Regions from separate parts of the Homo sapiens genome. Here regions 1 and 2 are each linked to region 3. The links come from fine-mapping of genetic effects on gene expression. A gene starts in region 3. Each other region holds a variant in brackets. All regions are shown on one strand. Distances are from middle to middle.

Region 1 (8,179 bases), 390 kb after region 3:
TCATGCCACTACGCTCTAGCCTGGGCAAGATAGCGAGACTCTGTCTCAAAAAAAAAAAAAGTCAACTGCTTGTGCTTAGGTTGTTTGAACCCTCACCAAGTCATGAGTGCAGAGCAAAGCTGGGGATTTGGCTTGGCCCCTGGTCAGGCTGACGCTTGGAGCTGACGGATGGAGGCTTCTTAGCCAGAGAATCATTTTTTCCTCCCTCTGTCCCCAGACGCCATGGAGTTGGTGCTGGTCTTCCTCTGCAGCCTGCTGGCCCCCATGGTCCTGGCCAGTGGTAAGTACCCCTCTGGGACCTGGCTGTGACAAGATGACAACCCTGTCCAGCCCTCTCTGCTGGAAGGTTCTGGGCCCCTTGGGACATTAGGGCTGGGGGACTCTCACGTTCTTCATGTCTAGTCAGGGGCCTCTCCCTTCAGTCAGCAGAGAAAGTCGTGGAGGTGGCAGCTATTTATTCACAGACCTCAGCACAGCCTGCCCCCTCGCCCCCTAAGGGTCCGGCAGGGAGTAGTTTTTAAGCCCCGCAAGCTCACTGCGCCTCTGTGGATTTGTGGCCTGAACCCTGGGATTCAGACCTGCACATCAGTCTCTAGACCATATTAGCAAGTGCTGGCCTCGTGCAAGTCATATGTCCTTCCTTGGTCTCGGTTTCTCCGTGTGTCACAAGAGGAAAACTGACCCTGCCTTCTGGGGATGATGTAAGAATACAAAGGGGCAATGAATGTGGGTGTTGCATGACTCAGAGCCTCACTGAGTTTCGATGCCTTCACTGACCTCGGCCCTTAGGGTTCCCCTAACCCCCTAACTGGCAGGCCCGCCCTACCGTGCACCTCTAGGCATCTCTGTTTAATGGGCCCTGCTCCTCTGGAATTCCTTTGTGGAGACTGAGGTCTGTGAGGCAAGGTTAGATATTTGGGAACCAGTTTGTGTAGCTTTCTTTCTCTTGACCAACTGTTTGTTTTTGCAGCAGCTGAAAAGGAGAAGGAAATGGACCCTTTTCATTATGGTGAGCGATGGCAACCCTGGGTGCAGGGGTCAGGGGGAATGCAGCCCTGCCTGGCAGGAGGGGTAGGGGGAACAGACACCCTCTCCCTGGCCCCTTCCTCTCTCACCCTTGGTTCCTTTGGCAGATTACCAGACCCTGAGGATTGGGGGACTGGTGTTCGCTGTGGTCCTCTTCTCGGTTGGGATCCTCCTTATCCTAAGTAAGTTTGTTCTTTTGCTCACTCTGTTAAGAGCAATGACTGAGGCTGCTAAGCAGGTGGGGACAGTGTGAGAGCCTGGTTGGTCCCTCTCCTGGAGAGGAAAGGAGGCTGCCTGCCCTCCGTGTTATCTTCACGACCCAGTAGAGTGCTGGGCACATAGTAAGTGCTCAGTAAAACAGTGACACGGGAACAAAGAAAATGTCATATGACAATGAGCATAGATAGGAACGAGCAGGGTGGCTTCCCAGTGCTGTGTCTATAGGGCATGAATGGGGCAGTCACGGAGGAAGGAGACAGGTGCTGCCCTAGTGTGCGAGGGATGTGCCTCCGAGTTTGTTGTTCCCACATGAGCCTGATCTGCACAGATCCCTCTTTACTCACATGATCAAGAGGGCTGTGGGGGTGTAGCCATTCCAGCTATAGAATGTATTTCCTTTGCCCCAGAAGAAGCTACCCCATCCGAGGGCCACTGTGTGCAGCTGTGCAAACTGTGCACTGCCCAGGTCTAGGGGGTGCCATTTACATAGTCCCACAACCTGCACAGACCCTTGGCCCTGCTGTGGCCAAGCCAGCAGCATGACCTTGGATGGTTTCTTTGCTTTTCAGGTCGCAGGTGCAAGTGCAGTTTCAATCAGAAGCCCCGGTAAGGATGCCGTGGCAGTGGCCTTGGGGGGGTGATACTAGGTGGGACAGGAAGGGACCCCTGGTGTGTGACCCCCAAATGGGCATTCTCTTGGATTCTTGTCTCGGAGGCAGAACGTGTGTGTTGGGACGTAGGGCTGGAAGTTTGAGGACTGCCAGGTAGACTCTGGGGCAAAGGAGAGGTCAAAACATTGAAGGTCAGCCCATCCTGTCTCTTCTGATCTATGTGGGGGACGGGGAGTGGACAAGAAAGTACTGGAACCTTTTCTGGAGGCCCTTGGGACAGTTGAGCTTGGGAGAAGGGAAGCAGAGGGCTTCCTGGCCTCTCTAGATGCCCAGGTCCTCTCTACAGGACCTGCGACACAGTCCCCACTTGTCACCTGTTCATGAGGCTCTTTGAGCTGAATAGACACTTGGACCTTCTTTCTACTCCCACATAGAGGTCATACCCCATTAGTTTACTATAATAGCCAAGGGTAGCTTGGACCCCAGAAGTCCAAAGCGTGTGGCAGGACACACCCAAGCCCCCATGTGGCCCTAGCCTCCCCTTCCCATGAGGGCTGACATTGAAGGGTGCCTGTAAGTTCCCTCTGAGTCTGACCCTTCAGTCCAGACCTTTCCCTCTGTCCCATGCATCCCACAGCAGAGTGAGCTCCAGCCCCTCAGGGCACTGGGAGGAGCCTGACTGCAGGCAGCTGTGCCCCAGTGAGGAGCAGAACGATGCTCTCTGGGTCTGCCCTGGAGATCTCTGATGGGGCTGTGTGTCTCTTTCTCCTGCAGGGCCCCAGGAGATGAGGAAGCCCAGGTGGAGAACCTCATCACCGCCAATGGTAACTGTCCGTGACCACCTGCCCAGGTGGAAAAGAGGGAACAGAGAGACCCCTCTGTGGCTCAGGAAGGGACTGTTGCCAGGTGCATGGCCAGCCAGACATGCTCCCGCAGTGCCAGGAGAGTGGGTCTCCAGGGCCTCTGCAGCATTGCCCCCTCACTCCACCAAACAGGCTACTACTAGTGTCACCTGCTATTTACAGAGCATCTGCTTGTGCCAGGCACAGACCCCATATCATTTAATGGGCACACAGCCCTGAAATAGGCATCATTGTCCCCATTTTGTAACCGAGGGACTGAGAGAGGTTACCAGGTTCCTGTAAGCAGCAAGTAGCAGGGCCAGGATTGAACCCAGATCGTTCTGACTCGAAATCCCATGCCCGTCACCTCTTTGCTCCCCCAGAGTCAGGCAGAGACACGGCTGCTGTTGGGGGTGGCCCACGGGGGTGAGGAGTCTATACACTATAATCCATTCTGGTTTTCTTTCCAGCAACAGAGCCCCAGAAAGCAGAGAACTGAAGTGCAGCCATCAGGTGGAAGGTGAGATGCTCAGTGCCTGGATTGGCCCCTGTTGCCATCACCGTCTGCATCAGGGCCTGGACAGGGGTTCAGGCGGGAAGGATGGGGCTAGCTTTTGCAGTGGGCACAGCTTTTATTATGGGCCCTGCCCTGAGGAGCCTTCAGGAGTCTGAAAGGGGCTGTGAGAGAGACCAGGACTAGAAACACCCGAAGTGTCCCAC[A/G]CACATGCATGCCAACACCAGGAAATGGGGCTTCCACACAGCCCACTGGCCGAGTGCATAGGGCGTCATCCCAAGTGCAACATGGGAGAATTAGAGTTAGTGAAATGCTCCTAATCTCAAAGTAGCATAAAGATAATGGCTTTCCGTGGTGACTCAGAAAGTACTTTAGGGCCACTTGTTTTTTTAAACACCTTATTATGAAACTTCCCAACCCTAACCAAAAGTAGAGCAAATAGTATATGATCCTTCCCTCTCCACATTTAAGGGCACTGATTTTAGTATCTATTTCCATTGTTCATCGTAGGGGGCACAGGAGAGTAGTAACTGGCAAATGCTGTACAGTTTTCAGAGTGCCACCACACACACAGACTCACTCGAGTCTGCCAGAAAAAGAGGATGGGACAGGTGGGGTTTAGCCCATTTTATAGGTGAAACCAAGATGAGAGGGAATAGCCCCGTGGAGAGTGACAGCCCGGACTGTGAACTCAGGCCTTTGCGGCTGTGGTTCAGCGCCACTGCTCCCCTCTGTCCTGTGCGTCTCGCTTTATGACATGCCCTGGAATATCCTAAGGGAAAAGGTTTGTGTTTTGTCAGCTCACTTCTGCCTTTTTTTCCCCCCATACAAGTAAGGCATTATAGAAAGGTATATAAGTTTATCTCACATTGTAAGGTAAAAGAGGTTTCTGGATGATGAAGTGCCCGATGCACCAGCTTTGACTGTGCGTAACAATATCGTGTGCCTGTGTAGCATTTAAATTCTTTCCTAAGTGCTTTTGCATCCTCATAGCGGCCCGTGATGGGCAGAGCAGGGCTCATTACTCCCGTCTTCTGGATGGGGCTCTCGAAGGCAAGTGATCACCTAAGTGCGAATGGACGAAGATTCCGATCTAGGAGGCAGGTGCCCTTCCTGGTAGCTTGGTGTTCTGTCTATTTCATCACAGACTGAGAATCTGGGAAGGCTCAGAGGAGGCAGCCTGGAAATGAAATGTCTTTTCATTTTTTTTTTCCCAAACTAGTTCTTTCTCAGAAACCTTTTATCCTAAGGCTCAGGACTGTGAGCAACCACTGGGGAGGTCCTGGGTTTAACAATTTCCTTTCCATGTCTGCCAGGCTCCAGCCCACCTGGGAGAGGCTTCTTCTGAGGTTCACCCCTCCCCTGTGTCTTTGTCTCCTTTCTCTGCGTCTCAGACGAGGCTGTCATACCGGGAATTTCAGTGGGCAGGTGCTCAAGGAAGGGAGAGAAGCAGATAAGGATACCAGAGGCAGCCGAAGTGTTTTTAATTTAAATTATCCTCCTCCTCAGCCTCTGGAACCTGAGGCGGCTGCTTGAACCTTTGGATGCAAATGTCGATGCTTAAGAAAACCGGCCACTTCAGCAACAGCCCTTTCCCCAGGAGAAGCCAAGAACTTGTGTGTCCCCCACCCTATCCCCTCTAACACCATTCCTCCACCTGATGATGCAACTAACACTTGCCTCCCCACTGCAGCCTGCGGTCCTGCCCACCTCCCGTGATGTGTGTGTGTGTGTGTGTGTGTGTGACTGTGTGTGTTTGCTAACTGTGGTCTTTGTGGCTACTTGTTTGTGGATGGTATTGTGTTTGTTAGTGAACTGTGGACTCGCTTTCCCAGGCAGGGGCTGAGCCACATGGCCATCTGCTCCTCCCTGCCCCCGTGGCCCTCCATCACCTTCTGCTCCTAGGAGGCTGCTTGTTGCCCGAGACCAGCCCCCTCCCCTGATTTAGGGATGCGTAGGGTAAGAGCACGGGCAGTGGTCTTCAGTCGTCTTGGGACCTGGGAAGGTTTGCAGCACTTTGTCATCATTCTTCATGGACTCCTTTCACTCCTTTAACAAAAACCTTGCTTCCTTATCCCACCTGATCCCAGTCTGAAGGTCTCTTAGCAACTGGAGATACAAAGCAAGGAGCTGGTGAGCCCAGCGTTGACGTCAGGCAGGCTATGCCCTTCCGTGGTTAATTTCTTCCCAGGGGCTTCCACGAGGAGTCCCCATCTGCCCCGCCCCTTCACAGAGCGCCCGGGGATTCCAGGCCCAGGGCTTCTACTCTGCCCCTGGGGAATGTGTCCCCTGCATATCTTCTCAGCAATAACTCCATGGGCTCTGGGACCCTACCCCTTCCAACCTTCCCTGCTTCTGAGACTTCAATCTACAGCCCAGCTCATCCAGATGCAGACTACAGTCCCTGCAATTGGGTCTCTGGCAGGCAATAGTTGAAGGACTCCTGTTCCGTTGGGGCCAGCACACCGGGATGGATGGAGGGAGAGCAGAGGCCTTTGCTTCTCTGCCTACGTCCCCTTAGATGGGCAGCAGAGGCAACTCCCGCATCCTTTGCTCTGCCTGTCAGTGGTCAGAGCGGTGAGCGAGGTGGGTTGGAGACTCAGCAGGCTCCGTGCAGCCCTTGGGAACAGTGAGAGGTTGAAGGTCATAACGAGAGTGGGAACTCAACCCAGATCCCGCCCCTCCTGTCCTCTGTGTTCCCGCGGAAACCAACCAAACCGTGCGCTGTGACCCATTGCTGTTCTCTGTATCGTGATCTATCCTCAACAACAACAGAAAAAAGGAATAAAATATCCTTTGTTTCCTAGTGGCTCGGAGGTGCTTTCCTTTCTGTGAAAGAACTTGAGTGTTTGTAGGGTCTGTGGAACTTAAAGGGCTAGAGGGAGTCCGTCCATGGTCAGAGGGAAGAGGAAGGACTGGATAGCCACCCAGGCAGGCACAGAGCCCCGTCAGCTGCTGTCACTGTTGCCTCCTCCCCGCTTCTCTTCCCTCCTTTCCTTTTCTTCCTTCACTTTCCTCTCCTCCTGCTCAGCCCTTCGTCCCGCACCTTCCCGCCATTTCTATTCCTCCCTCCCTCTCTCCCGCCTTCCCAGGCCACTGGGCTCAAGCCACATCCCATAGCAGGACCTGTACATTGCACACTGTCTTGGAGCAAAAAAGGGAGTCACAATGGCTTCTCCAAGTACTCAGTGGCCTGGAGTAAAACATCCTAACATTTCTCTTTGGTCAGTTCTGGGGCCACTACCTAAGGACTTGTAAAGAGAGCCAGGGGTGGTGACTCATACCTGTAATTCCAGCAACTTGGGAGCCTAAAGCAGGAGAATTGCTTGAGGCCAGGAGTTCAAGACCAGCTGGGCAACATGGTGAAATCTTAGCTGGGCATGGTGGCTCGCACCTGTTGTCACAGCTACTCGGCAGGCTGAGGCAGGAGGATTGCTTGAACCCTGGAGTTCCAGGTTGCAGTGAACCGTGATTGCACCACTGCACTCCAGCCTGGGCAACAGAATGAGACCTTGTCTCTAAAAAGAAAAAAGGAAGGAAGGGATCAAGGGAGTGACAGGGTGGGTGACGTGGATTGTGAAATACCCCTCCTCTGTGGAGCCTCCCTGGGCATTAGGTAGAATCGAATCCCTTTTTTTTTTTTTTTTTTTTTTTGAGATGGAGTTTTGCTCTTGTCGCCCAGGCTGGAGTGCAGTGGCGTTATCTTGGCCCACTGCAACCTCTGCCTTCTGAGTTCAAGCGATTCTCCTGCCTCAGCCTCCTGAGCAGCTGAGATTACAGGTGCCTTCCACCATACCCGGCTAATTTTTATATTTTTAGTAGAGACGGGATTTCTTCATGTTGTCCAAGCTGGTCTCGAACTTTTGGCCTCAAGTGATCTGCCTGCCTCAGCCTCCCAAATTGTTGGGATTAGAGGCGTGAGCCACAGCGCCCAGCCGAATCCCTTTCTTGTGCCCCAATCACACTTGTTTGCTGCCTTTATATTCACACTTCATACTTGGCATCCAGACTGTAGAGACCAGGCAGGTAATGCCAATATGTGAATCTGCTGGAGTGACGATGGGGCATGGCACCTGCAGTCACCTACGGTGTCCTCCCAAAGACACTCTGACTCAACTTTCTAAAAACCACTGTTGGCCAAACCAACACAGATGTGGGCAGATTCTGCGTGGAGGTTGCCTGTGTGCAGCTTCTGCCTCTAGTGTTTTGTGTCTTTATTGATACAATTCCTGGAGGGCAAGGACTGTGCCTGCTCTACAGAAGCCTGGAACATCTTAGGGTCTTGAAAAAAGAATCGACCCCTGGAACGTCTTAATATCTTCCATCTTGAAGCCAGCACTTAAGGAGCGGGACCCTCTGGGCCCACCTCCTTCCAGCCCCAACTTCTAAGACCCCAGTGAACCTGGCACCTGAAGCTATAGCAGGAGACAGAAGTCAGTGCTCCTTGTGGTTTCGATGGGCCTGGGAACCACCACCTTCCCTGCCCAGTGGCCACACAGGCCCTGAGTCCGCCTGGATTCCGCAAGTTGTTTAGAACCGAAGAACCGCACAGATCCGCTTGCTCGGTGCCTTCTCTACGTGTGCTCTTGCTTCTGCCTTCGGTCCCCCAGGCCTTTGGAAAGACACAGGCTTATGGTAGAGCTCAAGCTCAACCTGTCAACCCAGTGATCATGGCGATTAAAAACTATCTGGTCACAGCAAGACCTGGTAAATGAGCTTATTGTTCGGGAACACTCGTGATACATCAGGGAATTGACAGGCCTTGCAGAAATTTCATAGCGAGGCCAGGCTGAGATCCCTAGAGGCCCTAGACATGCAAAGCTTTGTGTGTGCCGCCCCCCATACGTTAGTAAAAACAGAACATTATACTTCGACATAGGAATAAGGAAGTCCAATGAGGAGGTTCTAATTTTTCTCATAATAATTATGTTAAGAGTAAGGAATGATGGTCAGCATCTCTAGCACAT
Region 2 (8,179 bases), 26 kb after region 3:
ATCTCCCCAACCTCAGTTGTCTAACTAGATGCCTGGGGGTGTGCTTGATTCTTTCCCTTTCCTAGACCCCTAATCTAACAGGTCAGGTCAACAAGTCCTTGACTCCTACTACAGACTCTTGAAGTTGTCTTCCTTCCAGTCTGTCACTGCCGCCTTAGTTCTGGCTGTCTTCATCTCTGTCTTGAACTGTAGGCCTCTAACCAGTCTCTGCTTTCTCTCTCAGCCACTGCTCCTCATTCTTCACGCGGCTCTTGGTGCCATCTTTCTAAATCACATTAAGAACTTTCTCTTCCACTGCTAATAATCTTTCAATGTTGTTTTCATTGCCTGCAGAAAAATGCCAGATTCTTGGTTGAGATAGTCAAGGTCCTTCCTGACTTGGACCCTGTCATCTCTCCAGCGAAATTCTCCAGCACACCCACAAATGCCACTTTTGTGCCAGACCCGTTGAACTCTTTCTAGTTTCTAAAATCATCATCCTGTCAGGCCTCCAGATCTCATGCAGAACATCCCCTCTGTCCTTCTCCATATTGTCTTCCCAACAAACTGGATGTTTCCTGTAAGTCTTAGGTTAAACTTTAGAACTTTTGCTGGCAAATTCTCACTTGCTGCATATAGAATTGGACACCCTTTTTTCTGTGCCCCTCTGTTCCCCATACAGACTTCTGTTGTAGCGCCTACAGCAGCCTGTGGTTTTCTGTTGACGTGTTTGTCTTCTTCCTTGGAAGCAGGGACCACACATCATCATTCATCTCTGAATCCCCTGTACCTAGTGCTGTCTGGCCCTGAGGAGGTGTTTGCTTTATGTATTTAGAAAGAACCATGCAGATGAGTAGAAGGTTCCATATGGGCAGAAGTACCTCCGGAGGCTTTACTTGGTATCGTCACTGTGGGGCTGAGTCTTGCGGCATGAGTTCTTTTGAAGACAACCACTTGCCCTAAGGAAGATCAGCAGCCTCTCAAATGCCTGTTATTTCTGGGTCCTTGTTAAGCCAAATTTTAGAATAGAATTGTTGATGTGAAAGGAAACTTTACTAGAGGTGAACTGCTAGCCTCTTCTCCCACCCACCTTAATCTACATTTTAGGGTAAACGAGGGGGTTAGACTTTGGTTCTCAATCTCATGGAGACAGTGTCCCTAGTGTCCAGATATGGGGTGGAGTCTGGCCTTCCCCTCCGCTTCGTGGCCTGGCTGGTGCTACTTGGTATAGGGCTGTGGGGCTCTCAGCTCTTTGCTAAAGTATTGAGACCCTCTCCTTGCTTTTCTACTTTCCCAAGCACTGGTGACCCCGGCAGCCCTGAGGCCTCTGGTCTTGGGTGGTAATCAGTTGGTGATCATTGTGGGAATTGTCTGTGCCACAATCCTGCTGCTCCCTGTTCTGATATTGATCGTGAAGAAGACCTGTGGAAATAAGAGGTACAGGGCTACCCCCACCCCTTGGATTGGGAGGCTGGGGGTGCAAGGCTGCCTCTACCCCAAAGTAGAACAGGGTGATAGGGCCCTACTTATGCCATTCTCACAGAAGGGGGTATTTTTAAATGGAATCATCTGTGGTAACCCTGCCCACTTTGCTTACTGTGCCCGGGAAAAGAATTTAATATTCCTACGCTCTCCTCATTCACTTTGTTATTATGTAAAGACTACAAACTCCCTTAGAAATGGGGGCCTCAGTAGGGCATAATTCAGAGCATAAATCTTACACAAGAACTATCATGGTACCATTCACTGCCTAAAAGATGATTTTTAAATTATCCATACTGTACGTTCCGCATAGAAGCTAAGATCTTAAGGGTTGCCAGTGGTTTTATCTAAAAGACCACATTCTAATTATGAGATACGATCTTTGAATGGGTGCCCTCAGGTTCTAAATGAATTATTATTAAAAGATGCTTTTGGCCAGGCGCAGTGTCTCATGCCTGTAATCCCAGCACTTTGAGAGGCCAAGGCGGGCGGATCACGAGGTCAGGAGATCGAGACCATCCTTGCTAACACGGTGAAAAGCTGTCTTTACTAAAAATGCAAAAAATTAGCTGGACGTGGTGGCATGTGCTTGTACTCCCAGCTACTTGGGAGGCTGAGGCAGGAGAATGGCGTGAACCTGGGAGGTGGAGCTTGCAGTGAGCCGAGATCACGCCACTGCACTCCAGCCTGGGTGACAGAGCGAGACTCTGTCTCAAAAAAAAAAAAAAAAAAAAATAATAATAATAATAATGTGCTTTTAAAGGCCTGAATTTCATCGGTAGTTCTCCCAGGGTCTCAGAAGTGCCCAGATGCTCCAACAGGGACACTTGTGTTTCACTGGCTGTTGGCAGATCCATGTCCCTCAGTTTATCCAACTATCGATGGAGTATGCTTGTAGTGCAGATCGACTCCCTTGTTGAAATAGTGTCAGTGGGAAAGGGCCTCATGAATAGTCCTGACTTTTGAGTGTTCTTTCCCAGTGGGTCTTGGATCCTGCAGAAAACACTTGTGCCTGCTAAGTTTTCACTTGCACTCCCTAGGGCTTCCTGATTTGGTTTTGAACTTGGCTGGCCTCTCTAAAGGTCTTTGCTCTGGGCATGCTCGGAGCACTGAGCTAGACAACCTGGATTCCACTCTCAGCTTACTTCCCCTGTCGGGACCTCAGTTTCCCGCCAAAGGAAAGGTAGCACTTCCATGTCTAGTCGTTTATTCTAAAGAAATAATTAAATGGATATGCTGAGATTTGTGCAAAACTGCCGTCTTGCTTATAATTAAAAATAGGGATAATTGCCAGTGTCTGTCAGAAAGGCAACGATTCAGTGAACCAGTCAATGAAACACTCCAGATCCCTCTACATAATGACATGGAAAGATATCCAAGGAGTAAAAATACAGAATTTATGGTATGACCTCATTTTTATAAAAGAGAAAATAATATGATGCTCACTCCAGCAGCATATGTACTAAATACATTTTATGTGAGCTTATGCTTACACTGAGAGAGGCTTGGAAGGACAGTTGTAAAATGTGGGTAATTGTGTGGAATTTGAAGTGAAGGAGAAGGTGGATCCCATGGGGTGACGGGTTGCAGGGAACTTCCACTTCCAACTGTCTACATTTCTGTATTATCTGAATTATTTGACAGTGAGAAGATACAACTTTAAAAGCAGAAAATACAAGGAAAATATTTCCACTGAGACCAAAACATATGGTTTCTTTTCTAGCTTAAACCTTGAATTTTTTTTTTTTTTTTTTAGTTCTGACTTAGGCCAAAATAGAAAAAAAGAAAGTATGTTCAGAAGGCAAATGGTCATGAGATCAAAGGCCAAGGGACCCCGACAGGGCAGGCGCAGAGCTCCTGCTTGGGGCTTGGGTCGGGTGTTTGTGGGGGTTATTCTGCTCCGCCCCCCGGAAAGGCCAGGAGCCCTTCGGATTGGCGTCTTGCTGAGCTCCTGCTGCCCCCTGCTGGTTTCGCGGCACTCCCTGGTCCTCAGAAATGTAGACAGGATGGTCAAATGGAATCCCATCTCCCCTCTCTCTCTTCATTCACTTAAAATTACCTCTCCCATACGGACTGAAAGTGGCTTGAGTGATAATAGAGAAGTTGAAGCTGCTTTTCAGCCTAAATTATCTCCAGAACGGCTTCTTGTTCTTCATTAGAAGAGATGCGCTTCTCAGGTTTCCAGGTGAGCCGGGTAGCCCTGGCTGTAGGAGTCCAGAGAGAATAGTTCCTTCTCTGGTGTCTCTCTCTTCACGAAGCCAAGAGGGGATCTCATGTAGGGACCCTTGAATAAACCATGCCCGCTGGTTAATTCCACATGCTTTTCATGTCTTGCAGTTCAGTGAATTCTACAGTCTTGGTGAAGAACACGAAGAAGACTAATCCAGAGATAAAAGAAAAACCCTGCCATTTTGAAAGATGTGAAGGGGAGGTGAACACACGCTTCAGCCTAAAACACTAAGTAGATGCAGGCCTGGGCCGTTCTCATACCCCCGGGAACCATATCTTACCCATTGTATGTCGCAGCTTGCAGGCCAGTGCTTGGCACAGAGCAGGGACTCAGGAAGCCTTTGTCACTAAAGTAAGAGCCTCTGCGGAGTACAGTGCATGGGGTCGGCTGGGACAGCCCCAGGCAGCAGATCCTGGTATTGGGCTGAGGAAAGAGCACTGCGCTTGGAGTCAGTAAGATCTGCCACCTCCCTGAGTCTCATCAGCAAAATGAGGATAAAGATAAAGATACTATAGTTGCCCAGCCTGCTTGACAGGGTTGTTGTAAGGTTCACATAAGATGATGATATGCAAATGCTTTGTAATCTAGGAGGTGCTATTTGTCTAAAGTCTAATGGAGAATTATAATACATCCAGGAGTTAAGGAGTTCTAATGCTTAAAATGAAATAGTCTAAGATCTTAGCAAGAAAGGATTAAGAAGGACTTTTCTCTCCATATTGATTTTGTAATGGAGTTATAAATAATTGCTTCTAGAGACTGAGAAATTGATTGGTTTTCTTTAACTCCTATTCTTTCTTTTCTTTCTTTAATTTTAAAAAAACTCTTTGAATAGTTACCTTTCTCTATTTTGGGCTGTTTTTGTCCCAAGAGTAGGATTTTTTCCCAGTAGAGTGCAGTGGTCCAAGAATGGGCCACTGGATGATACTGCTTTACCAACGAGTGACAGGACCATGAACCTCACAGTTGTGAGGTTCAATGAGGGCTGGCCCTGCCACATAAATCCTCTGAGGGAGATGATGACAATTCACTGCTGATTAATGCCATTCTGCCTTTACTGTAATTAGAAGGAAATAACCCCAGAATACAAGGAATTTAGCAAGATAAGGAACCCCTGCTGCTACCTAAACATCCATCTAAACAAAGATGTTTGGCTTTTGAAGCAAAGAGTTTGGTTCTTAAGACTGTGTTCTTTGACAGTTAATTTTCAAGAAGACTGAAGACTGAATTATCATTGTTGAGAATTCTCTAGGTCTCAGTAACCCTCTGAACCAGCAGTTTGGGTGGTCGATGCCTAGCAAATAGGAGTGGGTGGCCTTTTCTCTGGTGTATAAGATTCATCTAATTTTTAGGAATTTTTGTACCATTTTCCCCCTCTA[G/C]AAACACATTTACTCCCCAATAATTGTACGGGAGGTGATCGAGGAAGAAGAACCAAGTGAAAAATCAGAGGCCACCTACATGACCATGGTGAGAATGATTCTGGCCTCAGCTGAGCCAGGTGTCAGAGGCTCAGGTGGTGGTGGTGGTGGGCGTGGCTGGGTTGCCCAAGGGAGGCTGCTGAGGGCGGTGATTTTTCTAAGTAGCAGAAAAGTCTGAGAAACTGAAGTTCTGCTGGATAGAAGAGTGATATCAAACTTTCTTACCCAAGCTCAAGGATTAAAGGTTATCACCAGAGATTATTTATATTAGTGGTGAAAAGAAGTGAAGAGTGGCTTTTACTGAGGGCAGGGAGGACGTCTTTTGCCTCATCAGTTCAATCTAATAAAGAAAACACGGCCGGGTGTGGTGGCTCATGCCTGAAATCCCAGCACTTTGGGAGGCCGAGGTGGGCGGATTGCTTGAGGCCAGGAGTTCAAGACCAGCCTGGCCAATGTGGCAAAACTCCCTCTCTACTAAAAATACAAAAATTGGCCAGGTGTGGAGATGCGTGCCTATAATCCCAGCTACTTGGGAGGCTGAGGCACGAGAATTGCTTGGACCTGGAAGGCGTTGGTTACATGAGCCGAGATCCACCACTACACTCCAGCCTGGGAGACAGAGTAAGACTCTGTTTCAAAAAAAAAAAAAAAGGCCGAGCATGGTGGCTCACACCTGTAAACCTAGCACTTTGGGAGGCTGAGGCAGGTGGATCACTTGAGGTCAGGAGTTTGAGACCAGCCTGGCCAACATGGTGAAACACTGTCTTACTAAAAATACAAAAAAATTAGCCAGGCATGGTGGCGGGCACCTGTAATCCCAGCTACTTGGGAGGCTGAGGCAGGAGAATTGCTTGAACCTGGGAGGTGGAGGTTGCAGTGAGCTAAGATCGCGCCACTGCACTCCAGCCTGGGAAACAGAGCGAGACTCCTGTCTCAAAACAACAACAACAACAAAGAAAATAGGATAAATAGGATAAGATCCTTGGGCAAGTATTGTGTTGCTGTGAGTCGTTTTCCTTGCTATCAAAAGGTCAAAGTAGGGTTCCTTCCAATGCTTAGATTTTGTTTCTTAACTTTGTGACTTATTATACCTTCTCATAACCTAACTGCCAGGCAGGCTGCATGCTGGATCTCATACAATATTTTGGAGTCTGATTCCTAATTTCCCTTTGCTTAGACTTCTGTAGCCCCTTAGAGAACTGCAGTGCCTGGAAAAGGCACCTCGGGGCGTGCAGTGAGTGGGGGTAGGGACAAAAGGAGTGAGCTGGCGATGAGCACGGTGCTATTTGTAGACTAATTATAGGCACCCAGCCTATTAAGGAGCAGTGTTCTGTGGGTTTGGGAAGGCTGGCCTCCTCTGCTTGTGGAATGATGGGCTTTGTTTGTTCCTATCGTACCAGCCCTGAGGACACATGACTCCCAGCTGATTGCAGCAGAGAGAGGTCTGCCAGGGAAGTGTGAGATCAGAGGCCTGGCCTGGATCCACCGAGTGAAACATTAACTCCACCCTGAAGTTGCAGCTGAATGGAATCATTTTCCCTCTGTATCTTTCTCCCATACTGTTATGTGATGCTGCAGTAACTTGCGAGGCCTCATCCTGGCTCCTGGAGACCTGCTGATACAGCTGCCTTGTGGCTACTGCTGAGTGGGTCACCAGCCAGGGTGGCACTGTTTGCAGAACGTCTCCGAGGTGGAGATGATGCAGGAGGAACAATTGTCTTCACAGCTAACTTCCCCAGGTTTAATGCTAGGCGATTATGGTTTTGATTCTGTTGAAAACACCATTCCTGTCCTCTTGATCTAGATCCAATAGAGTAAGAGAAGAGGCCTGGGCTGCAAACTCAAAGGCTGGCAGGGGCCAGTCAAGTTATTTTAAAATATGATGTGCCAAGTTAAATAAGGCTGTTGGTGAATTTGGGACTGCAGGCCACTTGTTTGAGACTGCATTTATAAAGGTGTTCTCTGATAGGGAGCAGGGGTAACAAAGAGCCTTTGTTTTTTGTTGTTGAATTGATGAAATTCATGTAAATGTAGTGGCACCTTGCTGTTTTCCCTTTCTGAGGCTGTACACACAGAGGTTAAGATCACAAGCTGTGGAGTTAGACAGACCTGGGTCCAAATTCTAACTCTGTGTTGCAGCCAGATGGTCTTGGGCAGTAACTTGGCCTGTCTGAGCCTCAGTTTCCTTATCCTTAGAAAGGCAATAATAATACCTACCTCCTGGTGGTAAGGATCACATGAGATAATGCATATGAAATTCAGTACTGGGCCGGGCTCATGAGAAGAGCTCAATGAACAGCAGCTGCTATGATTATGGAACTACTTCTTACAAGCATGTTTTGTTTCTTTCTGCCCTTCCCCCACAGCACCCAGTTTGGCCTTCTCTGAGGTCAGATCGGAACAACTCACTTGAAAAAAAGTCAGGTGGGGGAATGCCAAAAACACAGCAAGCCTTTTGAGAAGAATGGAGAGTCCCTTCATCTCAGCAGCGGTGGAGACTCTCTCCTGTGTGTGTCCTGGGCCACTCTACCAGTGATTTCAGACTCCCGCTCTCCCAGCTGTCCTCCTGTCTCATTGTTTGGTCAATACACTGAAGATGGAGAATTTGGAGCCTGGCAGAGAGACTGGACAGCTCTGGAGGAACAGGCCTGCTGAGGGGAGGGGAGCATGGACTTGGCCTCTGGAGTGGGACACTGGCCCTGGGAACCAGGCTGAGCTGAGTGGCCTCAAACCCCCCGTTGGATCAGACCCTCCTGTGGGCAGGGTTCTTAGTGGATGAGTTACTGGGAAGAATCAGAGATAAAAACCAACCCAAATCATTCCTCTGGCACATTATTTCTAAATAAGTGTTGTTTGTGGAAATCGTCCTATTTTTATGCCTCGGTTGAGGGGGCAAGTAAAGTCCTGGTGAGGAATTTACAGTTAGAAACTTTTGGAAAAACTGAAGTTCCTGGAGGAAAGCCAAACCGTGCTAACACACTAGAGGCTGGTTTTGGTCCTGGGAAAGGTTTGGGGTGAATGGGTTGGAAGTAGGGTATGAATACAGTTTTGGGATTTAACTCAGTGGTTCTTC
Region 3 (8,179 bases):
TTAAAAAATTTGGGTTGTTAGATCCGTATCATAGATTTGGCCTAGCCTCTTCTGTTAACCTAGTCCACAGATGAGCGAATCTGGTTAGTTGAAGGACATTGTGATTTGACTCTGGTCACGCGAGGAAGTAGAAGGGCAAAGACAGGACCGGCAGTTTACATTTCCAGTGGTTAAACCTCACGGTACTTTGGGACTGCTTGTTAACTTTTGTGGTTGTCTGAGGCCAATCTAACGTGACCATTTCTGACACCTCAACAGAGAGAGGAAAGCAACTTGAGCAATGAGAGTAAATAACTTGGGCTCTCAGAGATTTGAAGATAGAGATCTCATTGTGAGGGGGACTATTTTGCAGGTCCTCATTTCTCCAAGAAAGAGATGGTGTTACAGGAACCCACTGAAAGCCATATCCCATTAAATGAGGAACTAATTTTGGCTGGGCCTTCTTGTAATGTCCTCGCAGGTGTGTTGTGAAGATTAATGCAGGGTAGTATGTTTGTAGATTGACACCTAGTCTAAACTTGAGGTAATTGGTGCTCTGTGAATACTCAGTCGTGTTCTTTTATAGCCTTAATCATGATTTGAACTAGTCCCTTGCTTTTTAAATGACTGAATGAAGTCCTTCGTGGTAAGGGAGTACGTTGATAACTTAGTTTACTATATGGGTTTGTGGTCGCATCCCAGTCATCAGCTGCTATCATTTTCCTTCTTCATCCCTTATACTGAGATTTGGGTTACAGCTTTTTATTCTTCGAAGGATCACAAAGCAGTGTACAGACACCTGCCTTCTTTAAGGATGAAAGGAAGATAAAGTGGTCTTTTTTTGTTTACTTATTTGTTTCACCTCTTGTTTGAGTAACTTCTAAGGTGCTATTCTCTCTCTCTTTTTGCTACCTCATGAGCTCTTGTCACAGCCATGGAAACCAGCCTCGTTTAGAAAGGGAACTTAGTTCAGAAGGGGTTAAAAGCCTTCCAGAATTTTTCTTTAGCTGCTGAAGTTTTTACATGTGGTTACATGACTTTAAGTTTTATGCATTACGCTCTTAATTCTATTACAAAATGTGGACTCACCAATTGCTTTGTGTTTTCCATGTGACCTGTTACTTCAGGCTACTTGGGGAACATCTTAGTCCTCTGTAGCTCCTGAACCCAGCACTGGTGCTTCAAGAGAGAAGGTAGCACGTCTTTGTTCAAAACAAAACAAAACGACACTTCTGGAGGCCACATCCTGAATATGAATGTTCTACTAAGTCACTCAGTTATGGTTCTAAAGGGAAACTGTAAGAAGACCCACAAGGAGTGGACCAAGACTATTATTTAATTGCACAACTTGAAACTTTGCTGCCAGAAGAGGCAGCTCCATTCCTTTGACTCCAGTGTTGGGCTGTTAACTGCTGCACCTCATTGCCTTTTTTTGTTTTTGTTTTTGTTTTGTAGGAGGGTAGGCACTGTTGGGCCATATGCACAAATATTGTAACTCTTGGTATCTTTACTGCATCATAGTCAATAAACTTCTTTGTACCCTTTGGCTACCTTTTGGTGTGTGCATATCTACATAAAAGGTGGGAATTGTCATGTGAAAAAGATGGGGGTTTGTGGTATTAAAAGCTGAATTAAATTTAAAAGAGTTTAATTGAGCACAGAATGATTCATGAATCAGGCAGTCTCCTGAGCCAGAGTGGACTCAGAGACTCCAGCGCAGCCACGTGGTGGAAGATTTATGGACAGCAAAAGGAAAGTCATGTACAGGAAACAGAAGTGAGGTACAGAAATAGCCGGATTGGTTACAGCTCGGTGTTTGCCTTATTTGAATAGTTTGAATCATTGGCCATCTTCGATTGGCCAAACTCAGTGACTGGCACAAGAGTAGACTAGAGTCCGTATACTATTCCATTTACGTTATAGTTCATGATGTACAGAGAAACCTTTAGGCCAAACTTAAAATATGTAAGGAGGCAGCTTTAGGCTAAACTTGATTTAACAGTGGTTTTCAGCATCGTGCAACCAGTCATGTCGGAGCTGTACCCCCGCAAGAACCTGCAGAGGTTCCGTGGTGTGCTGGAACCAGCTTACATAGCAAGAGCTGATTACAGGCTGAGTACCCCTAATCTGAAAATACAAAAGAGTGGTTGCTATTTCAACTCCAAAATCTGTAACTTTGAGTGCCAACATGATGCTCCAAAGAAATGCTTATTGGAGCATTTTGGATTTTCAGACTAGGGACGTTCAACTTGTATGTATTCGGCAAATATTCTAAAATCTGAAAAAAATATGAAATCTGAAACATTTCTGGTCCCAAGCATATTGGATAAGGGATACTCAACCTGTATTAAGTTTTTTAGGAATTTTGCAAGCCAGTTGTTAAACTGTTGGTAGCTTGAAATAGGTTATGATGGGAATATTTATGCTGTGGAGATTGCTGGCTCTCTAGCACATCACTTCTCAAGGACCATGCAGCGTAGTGCTTGGGAGCAAACGTTCAACAGCTTTTCAGATGATACAGGACAAGTTCCATGAGTCTGCCCATGCCTAGGTCAAGCCAATCTAGCCGAGGTTGAAGGTGCGTACATTGAGAACACCTATTTTGAAGTGGTGACTAAGACTGAGAGGTATCTTGAAGTGAAGAAACCTTGAGTTCTAATCTAGGATGTCCAAGTCACCCAAGAGGTTCTCTATGGGAATCAATGGCTGCCTGTATTCTGGAAATGCTGATATCACATGGCCAGAGGAAACTTTCATGTCTACATGGTGAGTTGGAGGACTGGGCAGGCGTATCTTTGGAAGCAGGGATTGGGTGATTGCCTGGCGAGGTTGCACCTCTGTTTTGAGAGGAAAAATAAAAGAGGTTGCTGTATCTTTAACACAGAAGGTTTTGTGTTAATATTACGTTTATTGTATTTTGTTTGCATGAAATGGATTTCTTTCTCAGCACCTATTTGCCTGGTGCCATTCAAGCTCCTACCCTCAGAGGGCTTGTCATCTAAAAGGGGAGATGGCACCTGAAGAGGTCTGAGTGTGAGGTTCACCTCAGTAGGTTGAATTTGTCACCTCTTTTTAGAATGAAAGTATACATAACAATTGGGTAATGGGCCAGATGACTGAAATGAGAACCTTGATTTAGAGGTTCCTGTTTGCATCTCTGCAACCACTTCAGAAGGCACGTGTTTGGTTTGCTCTGAGCCTAACCTAGAGTGCTCGCAGCAGTCTTTCAGTTGAGCTTGGGGACTGCAGCTGTGGGGAGATTTCAGTGCATTGCCTCCCCTGGGTGCTCTTCATCTTGGGTAAGCAGTTGCTTTGAATTTCTTAAGCCATTTTTTGAACTTTTCTCACACAGAAGTGTGCCAGTCCTGAAGGCTGGTTGAATTGGTAGTCTCTCAGGATTGTGAAGCTGCGATTGCAGAACTCTTGATCTCTGCAGGGGGATGTCATAAAGTAGTCTAATGGGTGCTGTTTCAGTTACTGTCGTGTAGAGTAACTTAGGTGAATCTCCTCAGCAAAAAGAGGAGCAAAGTTTCATCATAATAAGAGTACGTGACAATGATTATGACAAGGCTTCAGCTTTTAAGTCACCCGTGGGTTTAGGTGGAGCTGTGACTGGCTGTTCTTGAGCTCACAGCAGAGCTCTTTCTTCACTGTTTTTCTTTTTAGAAGACAGTTTTTAATTTTATTTTTAAACAAATTTTATTGTGTGTATTTAAGGTATACAACATGATGTTGTGGGATGCATGTAGATAGTAAAAAGTTTACTATGGTGAAGCAGATTAATATATCCATCATTTTACATAGTTATACCACTGTTTTTCTTCTCCCCATTATAGACAAACCAATATTTAACCTTTAGAAGCCCGAGACTTAAATCTCCCAAGAAAGCTAGGCTACTGTCCATGCTTGTTACACCCTCAGCACAGCCCTGACCTTGGGAAAGGCTGATGCAGGATGGTTTAGGTATAACCTACTCTGGAGAAGAGAGCAGGAGTAAGGACCTCCAGGGTCCCATTCGCGTAGAGCATTAACCGATGTGACCTAGACTGTGTTACAGAAGCCACGTGACCTACCAGTCTGTATTCAATGGCTTAACAATGGAAAATGAGGGCATATTTTAAGACGCATGGCTTAGAGTGGTTATATGGACTTGTAGACCTAAAAACATCTGAGAGCCTAGAAGTGCACAGCAGTGTGCAGATAGATTGAGAGGACTTGGCTCTGCAGGTGGACAACACTCTGTGAGTAAAAGAAGGCTGTGCAGTTGTCCGTTTGCTCAGTGGTTAGTTGTCCTTACTAGGGACAAACACTGAGAGACAGCAGCTCTCCCTTATTTTGTCTCATGATATTGTAATTTGGGGGGTAACTTTCACATCTTGTATGGTAGTCTCATTGTAGCATGTCTCTTTTCTGAAGATTTCTTTTCTGTAATATAAAGGGGTATGGATTTTTTGGAGGGAGGGGGTGCCACTTGTTCTCATTACCCAACAGGATATGGAGGAGAGTTGCTCAGAGAAGATTAGTATAGAGTCACTACAAGTCATTTAGGTAGCCAAAATGATAACTCCAAAATTTCTAAAAGGCAAAAATCTTTACTTGCTGATAGAGGGGAGAGTCAACTTTCCAAGCAGGTCGCAATAAAGACAGCATGATGCCAACCGAATCTATTTCCTCTCTCCTCCTTTTTCTGTTGTTTATTAAAAGGTAAACAAAAATCTCATTATTTTAAAATATTATGCAAAAATCTTGTTTATGAGAGAAAGCAAAATTTCACCTTTGCATTAGTATATTATTAATGTTAGATCCAATTCTTAATAAAACCTTATAAACAAATCTATACAATCATAGTTTGACCATAAGGTAAAACGTCCACAAACCTCTCATAATTCTTTACAATTTTCTGTTAAACAAATAAATTCTCTAGAAAACCATTATTCAGACACATGGGCCCGGATTCTGGCCCTACATCAGTGTGCTTTTATTTCAGTGTTCGACCTATGGAAAAACTAAGTAATCCCCTTTAAATCTTAGCCAACCTGCTTATACCCACAGAACTTTTCATGAGATTAACCCTTCACAAACCCTTTTCAACTTGCTTAAACCATCAGTTTTGTCACATTACTCTTTTTTTTTTTTTTTTTTTTTGAGACAGAGTCTCACTCTGTCACCTAGGCTGGCATGCAGTGGCACAATCTCGACTCTCTGCAACCTCCGCCTCCCGAGTTCAAGTGATTCTCCTGCCTCAGCCTCCCAAGTAGCTGGGATTACAGGCGCTCACCACCACACCTGATTAATTTTTGTATTTTTAGTAGAGACGGGGTTTTGCCATGTTGGCCAGGCTGGTCTGGAACTCCTAACCTCAAGTGATCTCCCCACCTCAGCCTCCCAAAGTTCTGGGATGACAGGCGTGAGCCACCATGCCCAGCTGTCCCATTACTCTTTTAGGTGAGGCCAATAGTTAAAACCCTCTGAGCTAGACAAAATTACGTTCTCTTTAACAGAAACCATATTCACACGCCTTCTTATAACCTCCCACCAAAACACATTCTTTACTTACACTGTCTTTATTTTTTATGTTATTTACACTGTCTTTATGTTTAAAAATCATTAGAGTCACGTGACCTAAAAGAGATTAAAGTTTCAATTTTTTCTGATAAAATGTTTGATTTTAGTTTCTTTAAGCCAATTAATTAGAGCTCTTTTATATAAATACTATACATACAACACATATAAATACACAGACAGACAGAAATGGAAAATCAAGACAAAATTCCATTGACTGAGAAGTTCTTAGAGGGAAAGCAGGGGCTTTTTGTTTGTTTAGATGGAGTCTCGCTCTGTCGCCAGGTTGGAATGCAGTGGTGCGATCACAACTCGCTGCAGCCTCAGCCTCCTGGGCTCAAGTGATCCTCCCACTTCAGCCTCCTGAGTAGCTAGGACTACAGGTGCCTGCCACTACATCCAGCTAATTTTTGTATTTTTTTTTTGTTCAGATGGTGTTTCACCAAGTTGCTCAGGCTGGTCTCAAACTCCTGGGCTCAAGCGATCTGTCCACCTTGGCCTCTCAAAGTGCTAGGATTATAGGCATAAGCCACTGTGCCTGGCCAGCAGGGGCTTTTAAAACAATATCTGTATACATACAGCCCAAATATCGTCTTTAATTAAGTTGATTTCTGACTATGGAGTTCTCAAAATAAAAATCCTATAAAAATCTTTTATTACCAGATTTTAGCCAGGACAAATGGCCAATATTTCTGGCTTTTGAATCTTTACCTAAAGGTAACCTCCTATGTGAAATTAATAAACCTTAAGTAAGGGGATAACTTAAACAGGGACACACAAGGTGTCTCCAAAGAGATGGTAAGCAATTTACAAGATCTAGAATTGCCCCAAAGGTAACTCAGAGAAAAGAAAATTTCAAGACAGGAAATTAGGAGCTCTCCATGGAGGGGAAAAGAATCAATAAATGATTAAACCACAAAAGACTCACTTTTGGAGCCAGGAATTGAACCCAGGGCACCACTGTGAGAGGGCAAAGCTTTAGCAGTTGAGCTACAGCAGGGGTCCCCAACCCCTGGGCAGTAGACTGGCACTGGTCCATGGCCTGTTGGGAACCGAACCGCTCAGCAGGAGGTAAGTCGGGGGCAGACAAGCAAGCATTACTGCCTGAGCTCTGCCTCCTTTCAGATCAGCGAGGGTATTAGATTCTCACGGGAGCATGAACCCTATGGTGAACTGCACATGCAAGGGATCTAGGTTTCATGCTTCTTAGGAGAATCTAATTCCTGGTGATCTGAGGTGGAACAGTTTCATCCCCAAATCATCACCCACCCTCCCTGGTCTGTGGAAAAATTGTCTTCCATGAAAAAATTGTTTTCCATGGGGAAAAATTGTCCCCGGTGCCAAAAAGATTGGGGACCAGTGAACTATAGTGCAAGATAACTGCTGTTGTTTTTTTCCGGGAGGAGTTTAGAGCATTTCAAGCTTGCAAAGGATTTTAACTGCTCAAGAGAACTTTCTAGGACTAGCCATGTAATTATTACGCATGCTTCTTTTAATTTTGCCTTTTCCTTTTAATGGTGTACTCAGTTCCAATGGTGACTGAATCTAAAAGCCTGTTAAACTCCAGATAGTGATTTTCCAGATTTTTACCATATAAGCAAAAGGTATTTCCAGAAAGGGGTAGAGGAGGCATCTCTATGACAGGGAGCTCTTGAACTCAAGGGGAAATTGATAATTTTACTTGCCACCTCCAGAGTCACCCTTGGCTTTGTTTTGCTGTGATTTGGAATTCAGCGGGGGCAGAGAGCCCACTTCATTTTAAGGCCATCAGGGGCTAGAATTCTGTCCTCAGGGTCTTTCAGCCCTCAGGACAGTCCCATTTTCAGCAGCTGAGCTTGTGGCAGAGGGTACAAGCTGTGCGGGGCTTTTTCCCATGTATCCCATTGGGGCAGTTTGCCTTCCAGTGGCCTGGCCATCTGCACTGAGGGCACTTACCTGGAGGAGTGTCCTTAGGGCAACCTGGAGGGAGCTGAGGGCTTCTAAATCAGCCAACAATTGAGCCTGCCTTTCTTCCCTGCATTTTTCTTTCTCCTTAGCCCTGGCCTCCTTATTCTGCTCTTGGTTATAAAAGATCGAGGAGGCCAAGTTGAGGATTCTTTGCATAGGGACCACGCTGTATTACACAAGAAAAGTAGATGTTTCTTTTTGAGAGTCTGAGGGTTAAATTTGTCTCAATGTTTTAGGATGCAATGCAGAGGTGAGTCTGAAGGAACAGATGGGATTTGTCCCATGGTGGGACTGGAAAATGATGAGCCAACCTCTGGGGGCTAATGTCCGCTGGGGACACAAACTGCTTTCTCTTGAGGCTTCTCGCTGAGGAAAAGCGTTCCACTCTCATCCACTGATGGACTTGGGTGCACTTTCTAAAGGGCATCCCAGCTATCAGAAAGACTTCTCTGCACTGGGGCCTTGCACCGGATAATCGGTTCAGGTATGAGGAGAGGGGAGGTGAATGGGGAGACTCACTGCTCTGAGGTTGCTTGAGCTCACCTAGTTTGGGAACATCCAGAGCAGGAGGTTTGCCTGTCTTCATGGGGAGAATTTAGAGTGAGAAAGAGGTGGGTCTGAGTTCCCCAAACCATGTGTGCCAATTGTGACACATAGAGGGACTTTTGACCAGAAAAGGTAGGAGAGGGTT

Direction of the effects. Positions count from the first base shown, and alleles are read on the strand shown. Sizes are in standard deviations (SD) of each study's normalised expression. Not every link is listed here.
With allele A in place of G in region 1, the expression in cerebellum of the gene that starts at base 3,208 in region 3 is higher (large effect, 0.89 SD a copy in GTEx).

What was found.
Region 1: its variant is fine-mapped to the expression of JAML in cerebellum (GTEx, PIP above 0.99).
Region 2: its variant is fine-mapped to the expression of JAML in whole blood (TOPMed, PIP above 0.99).

The regions. Positions count from the first base shown.
Region 1 is chr11:117,834,820-117,842,998 of GRCh38, reverse strand. It overlaps FXYD6-FXYD2 (FXYD6-FXYD2 readthrough), which reads left to right. Exons shown (of 10, transcript NM_001243598.4): 2 at 218-280; 3 at 971-1,009; 4 at 1,134-1,208; 5 at 2,631-2,680; 6 at 3,169-3,218. The coding sequence starts at 223. It overlaps FXYD6 (FXYD domain containing ion transport regulator 6), which reads left to right. Exons shown (of 8, transcript NM_022003.4): 2 at 218-280; 3 at 971-1,009; 4 at 1,134-1,208; 5 at 1,815-1,851; 6 at 2,631-2,680; 7 at 3,169-3,218; 8 at 4,722-6,018. The coding sequence starts at 223. The coding sequence ends at 3,197. FXYD6-AS1 (FXYD6 antisense RNA 1) reads right to left here. Exons shown (of 3, transcript NR_186291.1): 2 at 6,497-6,730; 3 at 4,680-5,831. Among named protein-coding and RNA genes, the nearest start is that of FXYD6-AS1, 5.2 kb to the right of the region's middle. RefSeq lists an enhancer at 88-1,287. The variant A/G (reference allele first, on the strand shown) is at 3,419.
Region 2 is chr11:118,193,711-118,201,889 of GRCh38, reverse strand. JAML (junction adhesion molecule like) reads left to right here. Exons shown (of 10, transcript NM_001098526.2): 7 at 1,278-1,416; 8 at 3,799-3,892; 9 at 5,069-5,155; 10 at 7,473-8,165. The coding sequence ends at 7,565. Among named protein-coding and RNA genes, the nearest start is that of SCN2B, 21 kb to the right of the region's middle. RefSeq lists an enhancer at 7,437-7,626. The variant G/C (reference allele first, on the strand shown) is at 5,068.
Region 3 is chr11:118,220,040-118,228,218 of GRCh38, reverse strand. JAML (junction adhesion molecule like) reads left to right here and starts at 3,208. Exons shown (of 10, transcript NM_001098526.2): 1 at 3,208-3,278. MPZL3 (myelin protein zero like 3) reads left to right here. Exons shown (of 6, transcript NM_198275.3): 6 at 1-1,529.